4 linked regions of the Homo sapiens genome follow. The protein of the gene in region 2 binds, or shares a complex with, the protein of the main gene of each other region. Each region holds a gene or a part of one and is shown on either strand. Other genes may lie near its edges. A codon is read from its position in the direction of its gene.

Region 1 (4,085 bases), on a different chromosome or scaffold from region 2:
AAAAAAATCAGGAAGAATGAACACTAACCTATTAAAAATAGTTACTTCGAGCAGTGGAATTGAAAAGAAAATCTTTCATTTTTTTTACCCATTATAATTCTGTATTATTTCAATTTATCTCTTCTAGAACAAAGTATGTTCTATTTTTGTAATTAGATGATGACAATGGAAATAAACTAATAAATACTACTCAACTCTTGGCATTTTTCTTTTGATCTTTCTGCCTCAAAAATATTCCGTGGTGACTTGACTGCAAACAAGCAGAGGAGCAGATATTATGGTTTGGACAAGTTGATTAATATAGACTGAAGCCTATATCACAGACAACAGTGTTCAAATACATTTGACCCAAATAAACTTTATTTTATATGCATATATCTAAAAGAGTATATGCATATATCTAAAAGAATAATATAAGAATTATTTACAGCATAGTATTCATTAAGCAGGAATTACCTTCAGTCTTCTGTACTCCTTCCTGATGAAACAGCACCTAGACTCCAGCCTGTTCTCCAGTGACCACTAAGCTCTCCCACCTACCTCCCCACCTACCTGCCCTCTACCACCTACCTGCCTTTGACTAGGCTCCACTTATAGCCTAAGCAGCTTTTCACCTTTTTCTGTCTCTAGAATTCCTACAGGTACTTAATTAAGTACTTGCCCACATCTTATTTCTATCTTAAGACTCTCCTAGATTGCCCTGGGTTATATATACCCCTGGCTAGAGTGTTCTATTATTTTACTTCTATTGTTACTTCTATTATTATAGCCTAGTTTGTATTACAGCTTTGTGTGTATATGTATGGGTACATATTCCCACTCGATTGTGAATCTCTGGAGATTAGAATATAGCTTAATTCATCCTGATTTTGACATGGCACCGTTTTTCACATATATCAAGCATTTCAGATATGTTATTTGAGATTAATTAAATGAGTTTATTCAGGTCATTCCTCCCCAACCACTCCCCACTCCAACCCTCACATCTCATAGAGTCTTTTTTTTTTCATTTCTAAACAAAACCTATAAAGTTGAACCCTATGTACAGAGGTACCCTCTCTCTAACCATTCTCTGTGTGCTGCAGAAAATGTCTCAGGATTATAAACTCCTACTTCTGTTTTCCTGCTTTGCCTTTCTAAGCCATTTAGAAATGACTCACTTTGAAACTCTTCCTGTGAGGTCAGATAGTGGTCTAGAGCATAAGACTTAACTTATTGCCGGAAACAGAGAGAGAACAGAAGAAGAGAAAGCTCAGCAAATTTTCTTGCCATACTTCATGACTTCACTGTGGCTAAGTGTGGGGACCAGACAGGACTCGTGGAGACATCCAGGTGCTGAAGCCTTCAGCTACTGTCTCAGTTTTTTGGTAAGAAAACCTAGACCTACCTGATGACTTGTGCTTAGCCTGTTTTGCTCATTATAGGTAATGAGTTTGAGTGTCACTATCTTCTATTTCCCCTATTCCTTCTCTGACTTTGAATTCTTTTATCTTATCTCTATGTCTAACTTCCTTTTTCTAAATATTCCACATTGCATTTGTCTTTGCTTTTAATATTTTCATAGTGGAATTAATAGTGAATTTTTACATCATTTCTTTCCTTTCTTTGAATTGGCTATGTATTTCACCCTGAACTTTGATTCCAGCTGTCCCCATTAATTTGTTTTTCAAATAATTGATTGCACTTTTTTTCCCTTTCCATTTCCTCTTTCTTTTTTTTATTCTTTTGCCCATTCCTTATTGCTACTGACTCTGTTATCCTATTACTACAATTTGATTCTGGGGTCCACTTTTCTTTCTCTATCACAGTGGAATTTTAGTTTCAGGATATTAATTACCTTTAAATTACGGCTGGTCAACTTAGTAATAATTTTTTTTAATCCTCTACTAATCTTAAACACATAAAGGTATGGTATTTTTAGCCAAATTAACTTGAAGAAATGTAAAAAGTAATCTTGCTCTGCAGGACTTTTTTTTTTTTTTTTTTTTTTTGAGACAGAGTCTCACTCTGTTGCCCAGGCTGGAGTACAGTAGCATGATCTCAGCTCACTGCAACCTCCGCCTCCCAGGTTCAAGCGATTCTCCTGCCTCAGCCTCCTGAGTAGGTGGGATTGCAGGCACGTGCTACCACACCCAGTTAAATTTTTTTGTATTTTTAGTAGAGACAGGGTTCCACCATGTTGGCCAGGTTGGTCTCAAACTCCTGACCTCAGGTGATCTACCCGCCTCTGCCTCCCAAAGTGCTGGGATTACAGGCGTGAGCCACCACACCCAGCCTTGTTCTAAAGGACTTTTAATCCCTGACTCCTACATACTTTCATTTCAAAACAGATAATAACAATATTTAACATATAGCTCATGACAGATAACTCTATTTTTATTAAAATTTTGCTGTTTGCAGTCCCTGCTACTTCAGTTCATGCAGTTCTCGGCAGCTTCCCCTTTATTAGCAATACCATATATCTTTTTTTTTTTAATGTGATTTTTTTTTTTTTTTGGTAGTAAAAACAGCATTTGCCTAACAGTCCTCGGACCTGAAATCCAAGAACCTCCCTAGTAATGATTATATGCTTGTAATCTAATTTGCTGAGTTTCACTGTCAAACTTGAGAAATAAAAGCAGAGAAAACGTAGGCTGGGCACAGTGGCTCATGTCTGTAACCCCAGCACACTGTGAGGCCAACATGGGAGGATTGCTTGAGTCCAGGAGTTTGAGAGCAGCTTGGGCAACATAGCAAGACCCTATCTCTACAAACAAACAAACAAACAAACAACAACAACAACAACAAAATGAGGAGAGGAGAGATGATTACCAAGTTTTCTTTCAGCCCTAGCATCCCATGACTCTATTCTTCTCTCAATATTTTAGGGGGGTACCGTGATAGTATTTAAATATCTGAGTAGACAAGGCCATGGAAAGGGGAATGAGAATAATTTCTTCTTCTTTTTTTTTTTTTGAGATGGAGTTTTGCTTTTGTTGCCCAGGCTGGAGTGTAGTGGCGCAACCTCGGCTCACCACAACCTCTGCCTCCCAGGTTCAAGCGATTCTCCTGCCTCAGCCTCCTGAGTAGCTGGGATTACAGGCATGTGCCACCATGCCCACCTAATTTTGTATTTTTAGTAGAGACAGAGTTTCTCCATGTTGGATAGGCTGGTCTCAAACTGACCTCAGGTGATCTGCCTGCCTTGGCTTCCCAAAGTGCTGGGATAACAGGTGTGAGCCACTGTGCCCAGCCCATGTCTTCTTTTTTATTATTTTGTTGACTTGCTATTTTAACTTCTGCTAATCATATGAGGCCCTATGGCAATATTTGGCTGACTCAGCAGAACTACTTTCAAGTCACAAAAATATTTTGAGCCTCTATAAAAGTAAAATGTTATTTTATCCAGTAAAAATTAGGAATTTCACAAAAAGAAAGTTAAAAGGGACAGCATGGGAATTAAGGAAGAGGCCTGGGTAAGGATTACATGGATACAAATTAGAATTTTAGATGTAATTGCAAAAGAAAAAAAAAGTCAACCCCCAAAATGGGCATCCATCTATTCAAGTAATTTTTTTTTTCTTTTTTTTTCTTTTGAGACAGAGTCTCTTTGTCATGCAGGCTGGAGTGCAGTGGTGCAATCTCAGCTCACTGCAACCTCCACCTCTCCAGTTCAAGCGATTCTCGTGCCTCAGCCTCCCAAGTAGCTGGGATTACAAGTGTGAGCTACCACACCCAGCTAATTTTTGTATTTTTGGTAGAGATGGGATTTTGCCATGTTAGCCAGGCTGGTCTTGAACTCCTAGCCCCAAGCGATCTTCTCCCCTCGGCCCCCCAAAGTGCTGCGATTACAGGCATGAGCCACTGCGCCCAGCCTTTCCACATAATCTTTAACCTTGGTGTCTCATAAGGCATTATGTTAAATTATGTGAAATGAGCATTTATGAATAAGACTCCTTTTTACCATCATAAAGTTTAAATCCAGAATAATAGATTAGACAGCCATTATAATTATTGTACAAGATAAAATGTGTCATTGCATATAGAATATGAAAAAAAGGTTCAAACATGCGCACACACACAAATTAAGAAGCTGAAGACTTGGT
Region 2 (3,500 bases):
TATTATCCCTGTGATTAGGCATTTATGGCCAGTGTCTATGTGGATCATTTTGCTTTAATTAAAGAATCAGCAACTGTGTTTTACTTTTTTTTGTCAGATATAAAGCATTCTTTCTATCCTAAAATTATCATAATATGAGATAAATTTCTATTTCATTTCTATAGTAGTATAAATGCGTTATGCATTTGGGAATGCAACATCCAGTTTATGAGTTTGATATCCATATATGGTTAGCTAGCTTTGTACCAGTTAGTTTTGGTGACAGTGGTATTAGATGCTAGTCTAAGGCATAAATCATCACTTCTCAGCATGTCCAACATCTCCTTCCACCCCACCCTTCAGAATCCCTAAGAAAACTCAAATTCATTTCCTATGTGATGTTGGTTTAAACTCTTATCTTTTTATATGAAGGAGAAAATACCATATTTTTGCTCTTTTTAAATAGAAGTTCAGAACTTAACAGTATATAAAATAATGAAGATACTTCTAATATAAGTGTAGAGCAATGAATAATGCTTGTACATTTTTAGCTACCATTATATGGAAAATGAAAGCAGTGATAAAAATTAGTGTTTCTTCTAGTTATCTTCATCTAGCTCTCTCTGAATTCCAACAAACTTAAGCAGTTTGATCATTTGTAATATCAGTTCTCTGTCATTGTTGCTTCTGGATTAATTGACTTGGGGATTAATTGATCCTCAAAAGGATGGTCCCCCAAGCTAGTAACATCTGACTCCTAACATTCTGAATCACATCAAAGTTTGAGAACCACTAGCTTAGACTCTGAGTTCTTTGTTTATGACCATGACCATTCTCCACCTGTCATCACATGTCCTCCTTCCCTGTGCGTCTGGTTCCATTTGGCTTAATAGTTCATTCCTCAGTTTATCTCTTCCACTCTCATTTTACTATAAGCAGCAAGCAGGAAACTGCAGCCTTCTACACTTTGCTTGCAGTTTTCCTCAGCTAAATATCCAAGTTCATTGCTTAGAAGTTGCACCTTCCACCCAGCGCTGGAACACACAGTTCAGCCAGCTGTTTGCCACTTTATAACAAGGACTGTCTTCTCTGTAGTGTATAATAACATGTTTTCATTTCCTTCTGAGACCTCATTAAAAGCTCCTTTAACGTTTGTATATCTACAACATTCTGTCCACAATGATACATGTATTCTCTAAGACAACAGAAGGTTCTTTCCAGCTTTATTTCCATCTCAGCTCTTAGCAGAATTGTCTTTAATCTCCCTATTTCTACCAGCAATCTCTTCAAGATAGTGTAGTTTTATTTTCTGTCAAATGCTTAAATATTCTTCTACCTCCTACATATTACCCAATTCCAAAGTCACTTCCATGTTTTTAGGTATTTGTTAGAGTAGCACCTCATTCTCTGCACTAAAGTTGTATCATCAGTATTCACCAGAAAAGCAGATCCAGTAGGTTATGTTTATTTCAAGGAATTGGTTTATGGGATTATGAAGGCTAACAAGTCCGAAGTTTGTAGGGTAGGCTGGCAAGCTTGGACATGAATTGTCATAACATTGTGGAGGAAGAATTACATTTTCTTCTGGGAAACCTCAGTTTTTGCCAGTTTTAGCCTGTAGAGTGATTGAGGGCTGTTGTATTATTAAGGATAGTCTCCATTACTTAAAGTTAACTGATTACAGATGTTAATCATATCTATAAAATACAGCAACATCTAAATAAGTGTTTCATTAAATAACACCTAGATAAATGTATGATGGCATAGCCAAGTTAACACACAAAACTATACCATCACAGAGAGGAAATGTGGGCTAGGGTCATTTGGGTTGTTATTGACATCTGTTATTGGATGGACAGAGGATGTGTGACATCTAATCAGAGAAGTTATCTGAGATATGCTATCTTTTCAGTAAAGTTATTTTCAAATTGTGTTCCTGGGCATTTTAGCAAATGGTAACCCAATTTATATCATTTTAATTTACTGTCATTTATTTTGTTCTTGTTTGATCGTTATTACCAGCTATGTTTTTTACATCTTAACTCTGTGATTTAGTTTGTGGTAGAAACATTTTGTTATATAGCTTACCTGAATTTAATGAACAATGGTACCAGCTAAGCCAAAAGAATGAAGAAGCCCACTTAAGTGATCATAAAAGTAACAATACTAGTTGATGTACTCAAATTTGGTTTATAGGCCAGTACTGCTCTGTAGGGAAAATTCTTTTTGCCTGGGAATTAAATAGGGACTATTTTAATTAGTGCACCATCTAGATAAATGGAGCCTTTAAAAATGTACCAGTTCGCATAGTGTTTTCATTATATAAGTGGTTATTTCTAGGTTGCATAATGTAGTCTATGCAAATTTTAACTTTTGCTTAACTTTATAAAGTCTTATAAGAGAAAAGGAATAGACTATTGTCTTTATATTGTTTGATTTTGCTACTACTTTGTTCACTAACCTATAGTGGTTCACTCTTGTATAAAAATTGAATTTTTTTCATTCTAAATTTTAAGGCCATTCAGTAGGATCCCTCATTTATTTCATATTTCAGTTCTCTCATTTTGTAATGTATCATGATTTTACTTTTTATGCAAACCTACCCTATCTGAATTTCATTTGCTTGCCCTACATTTTCTTACCTGAAATGGTTTCTTCTTTACATCAAAGCCTTGCTTATTATTTCTGAGTTAAAACGACATGTTTTAGTAGGAGGAGGGGTCTCTGTTCTCTGCCTTCAATGTTCCGTGACTGTGGCAAATGGAATATTTACTCTTTGATCTCTGCATTCCCCAGTTGCTTCATGTGACTTCTCAGTGTTTACACATAGTGCAGTCCATTCATTTGTATTTGCTTTAATGTTCTAAGTGTTCTCATGTGTGTTAATGTCTCGTTTTTTTGAGGTTATTTTTGTTTTTGCTTTTTTTTTTTTTTTTAGAGATACCCTCCCTTCAATCAAAAATTTTAAAAACTAGCAGGTTTTTTTCCCCTTTTGAGAAGTCCAGTTTGTGACATTTTTTTCTCCCATAAAGTCCTTCTCTCCTTCCTTTTCATCAGACATTTCCACAACTATTCAGAGCTTTTTTTGTTAGCATTAAAGAACTTCTCAGAGCTTTTTGAACATTTAATGTGATGTTAACTCATTTCTCCTCTTAACAGAATGTTTGATGTGGGAGGTCAGAGATCTGAGCGGAAGAAGTGGATTCATTGCTTCGAAGGAGTGACGGCGATCATCTTCTGTGTAGCACTGAGTGACTACGACCTGGTTCTAGCTGAAGATGAAGAAATGGCAAGTAGAACTACTTTAAGAGTTGAGCTTGAAACATGAAGAGCTGAAGGTGTTGCCAAGAATTTCTTTCTAATGTCTATAACAATTTGAAAGTACAGGGTCTTTCCTCTAACTTTTCTATTTGATAAAAGAGAGATATACTAGAGAAGCACAGGTGGATCTTGAGGAAAAGGAAAACATGGAGAGTCAATCTCACCTCAAGCCTGTAAGCTTAACTATGCATTTCTGTATC
Region 3 (4,122 bases), on a different chromosome or scaffold from region 2:
TGAAATTTACATAACATAAAATTAACCTCATTTCAAACTGAACAACTCTGTGGCACTCACAATGTTTTGCCACCATGAAAACACTCATTTAAAATCTCGGTTCACATTCTCTGGTTAAGGTTCCCAAATAGTATTACCATAAGATATATATGGATGGGCCTCGGATGTCTACAGTGCTAGTTATTATTATTGCTTCATTATTTAACAACGATCTTTTTCCTTTGTAAGTTTTGTCTTTTTTTTTTTTTTCAGAGGACTTGGACATGGATTGACACATTCTTGGTTTTTGGTGGCACGAGGGTCAGTAATTCACCATCATTTTGTCAGTGTGGAATCCCACTTCCTCAACTGGGAAAAATGAGGACTTATAAGGCTTTCTGGTCATTGAAGACTGCCCTAGCCTAACTCAGTTCTGCATATTCTGCAAGGCTTGGGTCAGAACAAAAAATAACTCCCTTCTTATTTCCCATCTCTGCCCTTCTCCCAACTAATTCTCAGAAAGGGCAAGGGACTAGGCAATCTGGCACCCAGAGGGGACCAAGAAATGTGTTTTTTTGTTCAACTTTAAGAGAACCACAGCAGTTGGCAAACTGAGGTATCATGCTCACCATTGTGTGGCTACAAATCTGGACTCAAATCTCAGCTCTGTTGCTTACCATCTGTGTGGTTCTAGGCACATTATGGACCTCTCTGTGCCTCTGTTTCCTCCTTAGGGAGACAAGGAAGAATCATTGCATTTACTTCATAGAGTGGTTGGGAGATAAGGTAAGATCATGGAAGGCAAAGCACTTAGTACCACATGGGGTGCATAAAAGCGCTAAAAAAATTTAGCTCTTATGATTTTCATTATCATCATTTTTGTTTGGCATAGGCAAAGAGCTATATATCTCAGCCAATCAGGGTCAGCTTAGCGACCCCATAGCCCCCAGGAGCAAATTCAACTCCTCATCTAGGGGCAGAGACCTCTCTCTCTCTCTCTTTCTGCCAGAGATGGCCCCAGCTTTGGGGAGAACAGGCTGGGAAGTGAATCCTGAGAAGAGAATCTGAAACTGCGATAGAACTGGTTTTCAAATAGCCCCTGTTCCCTAAGAAAACAAAAGAAACAACTGCAAAGAACCCTCCTCCATCATCCTCACCCTCCCTAGAAGCCAGGACTCAAGTTGTGTATAGATCAGGACACAGTCAACAGCTTCCAGAAAGGGATAGAGCAGCTTAAAGTCACTTCTGACTTCAAACAGAAGCAAGCAAGTCCCTCTTCCCTTCAAATAGAAGCAAGCAAAATCAACTGCCCCTGTGTTTTCCTATCAATTTATTTCACTCTTAGAAACTGACCTCCAACATGGATGATGGGGACCGACTTGTGGGGAACGTATAAGGATGACTGTCAAGCCAGCACCAATGTCCGTGCACACAGCCATGCACAGCCTGATGTTCTGTGATTCAGCCCTCAGCAGGGCTCCTTTGCTGTGATTGTCAGAGGTTTGGGAAGGTCTGGGGCTGAGTGGGGTCTGGGGCAAGCTCCAGAAAGAGTCACCAGCAGCAACTTACCCATGAAGTAGGTGGTGGTCTTGCAAACGGCGCTCCCGAAGATGAAATCCTTGAGCAGATTGGGGATGAGGTTGAACGGCATGCAGAAGAGACAGAGCATGAGGTCGCTGACAGCCAGGGAGAGGAGGAAGATGTTGGTGACCGTCCGCATCCGCTTGTTCCGAATCAGCACGGTGATGACCAGCGTGTTTCCCAGCACGCTGAGCAGGAATATCAAGGAGTACAAGAGAATCTGCACCGCTGGCTGCCACTCTGCAGAGAGAAACAGGAGCAAGACGGAGGGATGGAGGTGATGACAGCAGAATGCTAAAACCGAAGCCAAGGGTGAATTCCTGCCGATTTTCCCCCCACCGGGGTGTACATCACTGGACCCACGATTCCTGTCCTGGCAACATTTTGCGGAAACAAATTGAGGAAAGCAGAGACTGAATTATTTTCTTTTTAGAAGGTTGGTTTGTTAAAGGATCACTCAGGGAACCACTTTTTCTTAAGAACAAAGCTCCTCAAGTGAACAGTGATCACTTTCTTTCCTGGCTGCTAAGCATTATTTCACTTTAATCACTTCATGCTGGGTTTCCCCCCAAGAAAAGAAAACAGCTGCATGGTGACAACACCTTTTCTGCTGTGCTTGTAAGTTCAGGCTTTGACACTTGTAGTCCCTCTTGCTTCACTCAGCTTTTCCTCCCCTGCTTTTGTTCCCCCAAGTCCTATTCATGAATGCCCAACTCCCCCATGGGGGACAATAAGAATATTTGACTCTATTCTGCTTTTTAATCTCTTCTCCAAACTTCTGAACATATGACTTTATCTAGCCTTGTCTCACAATGACTTGGTTATATATATTTTTTATCAGCCTTGCCTTTGCTGATTTCTCCCACAACTCAATAGTTTCCTGAATTAAAATAACAGCTTCCGACACTTACCTTTGGAAGGACGGGGCTGATCCAAGCAGAAAAGCGTCTCATTTTCGAGCCCGAGTTCACAGGGAGGAGTGATGTTGCTTCCATTCACAAGAAGGCTGTCAACCACATCCATCCTTGCCTGCTGCTTTCCACCAAGTGCTGGAGAGCTGGTGAATTGCTCACTCCCGGCTCATTCCTCTAATGACCGAAGCGTCTCGCAGATGCAACCTGCCGTGGAGGAGCAGGGAGGGAGTGATTTCCAGGTGTGGGCTTTTTCAGCCATTCCTAAAGGCGACTTGAGTTCACCTCACTCACTCCAGCATTTGTACTCCTGTTGTGGAAAAGGCAGTGAGCACAAGCCAAGCCCGCTCCACCTTCACCCCGCCCCACCTCCCCCGGCCCTTTCCTGGGCCAGTCTTAGGGCCCTGAGTACAGACAGCCTGGCTACCCGTTAACCATTCTCAGCGTGTGGCTGCTTTTTACACACATGTGTACATATGCACGGACACACACACACACACAGAGGCTTCCCCAGTACTCCTCTATATAGGAACCCGTCACCATCCCAGACATATGCAGAAGAAAGCCCAAACCGGCTGTGTGAGACAGGAACAATTAACACGGTAACAGATCCGATAATGCAGACCATCAGGCCTAAAGAACACGGAGGGACTGTGTTCTACCTCCTTATAGAAAAGCAATTAGTGCCTTTTTAGCTTTGGAACCATGCCCGGTGGTGTGTGTGTGGACAGAACTGCTGGCTGGTTGTTAAGTTGCTACTAAACACAGTGTTGTTTCTCGTGGTCTCTGCCCTTGTTAACTAGGATTGAGGCACTTTTGAACATAGGTACCTGGGTCCTTATTACAAAAGACGTTAGTGAGATTTCCTCTTCATTCATGAAGCCTTGCATTCAGCACATCTTCATTGAGAGTCAATCATTTGCCAGGCACTTTTCTAGCATGTCAGCAAATAATGAGCAGAATTATTTCAGGTAGTAAGTACTACAAAGGGAGTAAAGCAGGGAGATGTGATGTATACAAACAGATTAGGGGCTGATTTTTTGGGGGGCGGGGACAGGGTCTTGCTCTGTTCCCCAGGCTGCAGTGGAGTGGCGCGATCATGGCTCACTGCAGCCTTGCTCCCTGGCTCAAGCAATCCTCCTACCTTAGCCTCCTGAGTAGCTGGGACTACAGGCACACACCACTAAGCCCAGCTGATTTTTTTAGTTTTAGAAGAGAGGAGGTCTCGCTATGTTGCCCAGGCTGGTCTCAAGCTCCTGAGCTCAAGCAATCCTCCTGCCTTGGCCTCCCAGTGTTGGCATTACAGGCGTGAGCCACTGCACCTGGCCTGGGGCTGCTGATTTAGAAGGGGTAGTCAGGAGAGGTCTCTTAAGGAGGGGACTGTGATCTGAGACTGAACCACAAGAAGGACAAAGTCTTGTGAAGATCCCAAGACAGCTTCTCCCAGGCAAAAGGAGGAGCACTTTTAGCAGAGGTAACAGCAAGTGCAAAGGCCCTGAGGTGGGAATGAGTGTGGCCCCATTGAGGTACAAATAGATAGAAGTAGGAGTGAGTGAGAGGCAAACAGCAGGACGTGAGATCAGAGAGGGGGGCCATCTCAGGGTCCTGGGTGTTCCATGAAGCTCTGTGGTGCTGGAAAGCCCTTCAACCT
Region 4 (2,819 bases), on a different chromosome or scaffold from region 2:
TCTGGGGCTGATGCTGAGTCTGGTCCCAAGGGTGCAGGGGCCAAGGACAGGACCCCCAGGGAGCTCACAGCTGGTAGGGGGTGGTAAACAGGCAGCCTAGCAGAGAGTGAGGGTTCAGGTTGGTCCCAGGGAGCTTCTGAGGCTCTCACTGAGTGTGGCAGGGCACCAGTCCGGGACCCCAGTGGGGAGGGTTAGAGGAAGGGAGGGGAAAGAGGGAGGGAGGGAGGACAGGAGGGGAAAGGAGGAGCATTGCTGCTGAGGGAAGGGCCCACATAGGGGCCCACAGGCTACGGGGGCGCACCCAGCCCAATATTCCTTCCGCCCCGCCCCTGACCAGCCTGCCCTTCTGCAGGTCTCATACCGGGCCCAGCAGGGTGACACGCGGCGGGCAGTGCGGAAGATGCTGCTGGTGTGGGTGCTGGCCTTCCTGCTGTACGGACCAGCCATCCTGAGCTGGGAGTACCTGTCCGGGGGCAGCTCCATCCCCGAGGGCCACTGCTATGCCGAGTTCTTCTACAACTGGTACTTCCTCATCACGGCTTCCACCCTGGAGTTCTTTACGCCCTTCCTCAGCGTCACCTTCTTTAACCTCAGCATCTACCTGAACATCCAGAGGCGCACCCGCCTCCGGCTGGATGGGGCTCGAGAGGCAGCCGGCCCCGAGCCCCCTCCCGAGGCCCAGCCCTCACCACCCCCACCGCCTGGCTGCTGGGGCTGCTGGCAGAAGGGGCACGGGGAGGCCATGCCGCTGCACAGGTATGGGGTGGGTGAGGCGGCCGTAGGCGCTGAGGCCGGGGAGGCGACCCTCGGGGGTGGCGGTGGGGGCGGCTCCGTGGCTTCACCCACCTCCAGCTCCGGCAGCTCCTCGAGGGGCACTGAGAGGCCGCGCTCACTCAAGAGGGGCTCCAAGCCGTCGGCGTCCTCGGCCTCGCTGGAGAAGCGCATGAAGATGGTGTCCCAGAGCTTCACCCAGCGCTTTCGGCTGTCTCGGGACAGGAAAGTGGCCAAGTCGCTGGCCGTCATCGTGAGCATCTTTGGGCTCTGCTGGGCCCCATACACGCTGCTGATGATCATCCGGGCCGCCTGCCATGGCCACTGCGTCCCTGACTACTGGTACGAAACCTCCTTCTGGCTCCTGTGGGCCAACTCGGCTGTCAACCCTGTCCTCTACCCTCTGTGCCACCACAGCTTCCGCCGGGCCTTCACCAAGCTGCTCTGCCCCCAGAAGCTCAAAATCCAGCCCCACAGCTCCCTGGAGCACTGCTGGAAGTGAGTGGCCCACCAGAGCCTCCCTCAGCCACGCCTCTCTCAGCCCAGGTCTCCTGGGCATCTGGCCCTGCTGCCCCCTACCCGGCTCGTTCCCCCAGGGGTGAGCCCCGCCGTGTCTGTGGCCCTCTCTTAATGCCACGGCAGCCACCCTGCCATGGAGGCGCCTTCCTGGGTTGGCCAGAGGGCCCCTCACTGGCTGGACTGGAGGCTGGGTGGCCGGCCCTGCCCCCCACATTCTGGCTCCACCGGGAGGGACAGTCTGGAGGTCCCAGACATGCTGCCCACCCCCTGCTGGTGCCCACCCTTCGCAGTTACTGGTTGGTGTTCTTCCCAAAGCAAGCACCTGGGTGTGCTCCAGGCTTCCTGCCCTAGCAGTTTGCCTCTGCACGTGCACACACCTGCACACCCCTGCACACACCTGCACACCGTCCCTCTCCCCGGACAAGCCCAGGACACTGCCTTTGCTGCCTTCTGTCTCTTGCATAAGCCTCAGGCCTGGCCCTTTCACCCCTCTTCCCACCAACTCTCTCTGCCCCCAAAAGTGTCAAGGGGCCCTAGGAACCTCGAAGCTGTTCTCTGCTTTTCCATTCTGGGTGTTTTCAGAAAGATGAAGAAGAAAACATGTCTGTGAACTTGATGTTCCTGGGATGTTTAATCAAGAGAGACAAAATTGCTGAGGAGCTCAGGGCTGGATTGGCAGGTGTGGGCTCCCACGCCCTCCTCCCTCCGCTAAGGCTTCCGGCTGAGCTGTGCCAGCTGCTTCTGCCCACCCCGCCTCTGGGCTCACACCAGCCCTGGTGGCCAAGCCTGCCCCGGCCACTCTGTTTGCTCACCCAGGACCTCTGGGGGTTGTTGGGAGGAGGGGGCCCGGCTGGGCCCGAGGGTCCCAAGGCGTGCAGGGGCGGTCCAGAGGAGGTGCCCGGGCAGGGGCCGCTTCGCCATGTGCTGTGCACCCGTGCCACGCGCTCTGCATGCTCCTCTGCCTGTGCCCGCTGCGCTGCCCTGCAAACCGTGAGGTCACAATAAAGTGTATTTTTTTATTGGTGCTGATTCCTGAGGACTTTGTGGGGTGCTCAGAGCCTTCGTGCTTTGAGGAGAGACTCCAGGGAGTCCAGAAACCACTGAGAAGCAGGCGTGAGGATGAGGGCTCTGTGTTTTCTTCTAAGTCGGGGGACTGCAGTGGGGATGAAAGACCAGCCTGCCACACCAGGGTTTAATCCCAAGAAGGGTTTCATGTGCCCTACCGCCAGACCCCTGCACTTCTCAAGACCTGGCTGGCGGGTGAGGAGATGCAGCCCACGCCCTGCACAGGAGGGGCCCGCTCTGGCCCTGAGAACACAGACATGCAGCCTTCCTGCCCCCAGGACAGGTGCCTCATCTTTCTTGGTCAGGAGCAGGGTTGCACCCCAGCAAAACTTGGGACCCAGGGAGGATCATGGCCATGCCCAGCGTGTGCAGGGTCTGGGTGGCAAAGGGACTGCAGTGACCAGAGGGGAGGGATTGGGCTAGCTGGCTGGAGCTAGGCTGGAGGGGCTGCTAGAAGGGATGAG

What was found. The genes of interacting proteins can lie anywhere in the genome.
Region 1: the proteins of GNAI1 (region 2) and C3AR1 are in contact, whole or in part, in a cryo-EM structure (PDB 9IPV), measured with the Homo sapiens proteins. Residues at the interface, in NP_002060.4 of Homo sapiens: Glu28, Ala31, Arg32, Glu33, Val34, Lys192, Asp193, Leu194, His195, Lys314, Asp315, Glu318, Tyr320, Lys330, Phe334, Phe336, Asp337, Ala338, Thr340, Asp341, Ile343, Ile344, Lys345, Asn347, Leu348, Asp350, Cys351, Gly352, Leu353, Phe354; in NP_001313404.1 of Homo sapiens: Asn57, Arg120, Val123, Val124, Pro127, Ile128, Gln131, Asn132, Asn135, Val136, Tyr356, Ile359, Arg362, Met363, Arg367, Phe368, Lys370, Gln372, Lys374, Thr375, Val378, Ala379, Leu438, Gly439.
Region 3: the proteins of GNAI1 (region 2) and CCKAR are in contact, whole or in part, in a cryo-EM structure (PDB 7EZH), measured with the Homo sapiens proteins. Residues at the interface, in NP_002060.4 of Homo sapiens: Glu28, Ala31, Arg32, Glu33, Val34, Leu194, Thr219 (codon at 3,203), Lys314, Glu318, Ile319, Tyr320, Phe336, Thr340, Ile343, Ile344, Asn347, Leu348, Lys349, Asp350, Cys351, Gly352, Leu353, Phe354; in NP_000721.1 of Homo sapiens: Thr74 (codon at 1,693), Thr76 (codon at 1,687), Arg139, Ala142, Ile143, Pro146, Leu147, Ser149, Arg150, Val151, Ser156, Ser298, Asn299, Ser300, Ser301, Asn304, Ala307, Lys308, Val311, Leu315, Met373, Asn374, Lys375, Arg376.
Region 4: the proteins of GNAI1 (region 2) and HRH3 are in contact, whole or in part, in a cryo-EM structure (PDB 8YUU), measured with the Homo sapiens proteins. Residues at the interface, in NP_002060.4 of Homo sapiens: Ala31, Arg32, Glu33, Val34, Leu194, Thr219 (codon at 3,203), Lys314, Asp315, Glu318, Ile319, Tyr320, Thr321, Thr340, Asp341, Ile343, Ile344, Asn347, Leu348, Lys349, Asp350, Cys351, Gly352, Leu353, Phe354; in NP_009163.2 of Homo sapiens: Asn69, Asp131, Arg132, Ser135, Val136, Ala139, Val140 (codon at 353), Ser141 (codon at 356), Tyr142 (codon at 359), Arg143 (codon at 362), Ala144 (codon at 365), Gln146 (codon at 371), Ile221 (codon at 596), Ile225 (codon at 608), Arg228 (codon at 617), Arg232 (codon at 629), Phe344 (codon at 965), Thr345 (codon at 968), Phe348 (codon at 977), Arg349 (codon at 980), Arg352 (codon at 989), Asp353 (codon at 992), Lys355 (codon at 998), Val356 (codon at 1,001), Ser359 (codon at 1,010), Leu360 (codon at 1,013), His416 (codon at 1,181), His417 (codon at 1,184).

What each region holds. Positions count from the first base shown.
Region 1 is NC_000012.12:8,063,560-8,067,644, reverse strand, and holds the start of C3AR1 (C3a anaphylatoxin chemotactic receptor), read left to right. Parts: upstream 1-1,285; 5' UTR 1,286-1,367; exon of another isoform or gene 1,368-1,424; intron 1,425-4,085.
Region 2 is NC_000007.14:80,207,831-80,211,330, forward strand, and holds part of GNAI1 (guanine nucleotide-binding protein G(i) subunit alpha-1), read left to right. Parts: intron 1-3,138; coding exon 3,139-3,268; intron 3,269-3,500. UniProt on the Homo sapiens protein: Guanine nucleotide-binding proteins (G proteins) function as transducers downstream of G protein-coupled receptors (GPCRs) in numerous signaling cascades.
Region 3 is NC_000004.12:26,487,685-26,491,806, forward strand, and holds the start of CCKAR (cholecystokinin receptor type A), read right to left. Parts: upstream 2,801-4,122; 5' UTR 2,584-2,800; coding exon 2,472-2,583; intron 1,801-2,471; coding exon 1,549-1,800; intron 1-1,548. UniProt on the Homo sapiens protein: Receptor for cholecystokinin. Mediates pancreatic growth and enzyme secretion, smooth muscle contraction of the gall bladder and stomach. Has a 1000-fold higher affinity for CCK rather than for gastrin.
Region 4 is NC_000020.11:62,214,460-62,217,278, reverse strand, and holds the end of HRH3 (histamine H3 receptor), read left to right. Parts: intron 1-352; coding exon 353-1,273; 3' UTR 1,274-1,872; coding exon of another isoform or gene 1,873-1,900; 3' UTR 1,901-2,319; downstream 2,320-2,819. UniProt on the Homo sapiens protein: The H3 subclass of histamine receptors could mediate the histamine signals in CNS and peripheral nervous system. Signals through the inhibition of adenylate cyclase and displays high constitutive activity (spontaneous activity in the absence of agonist).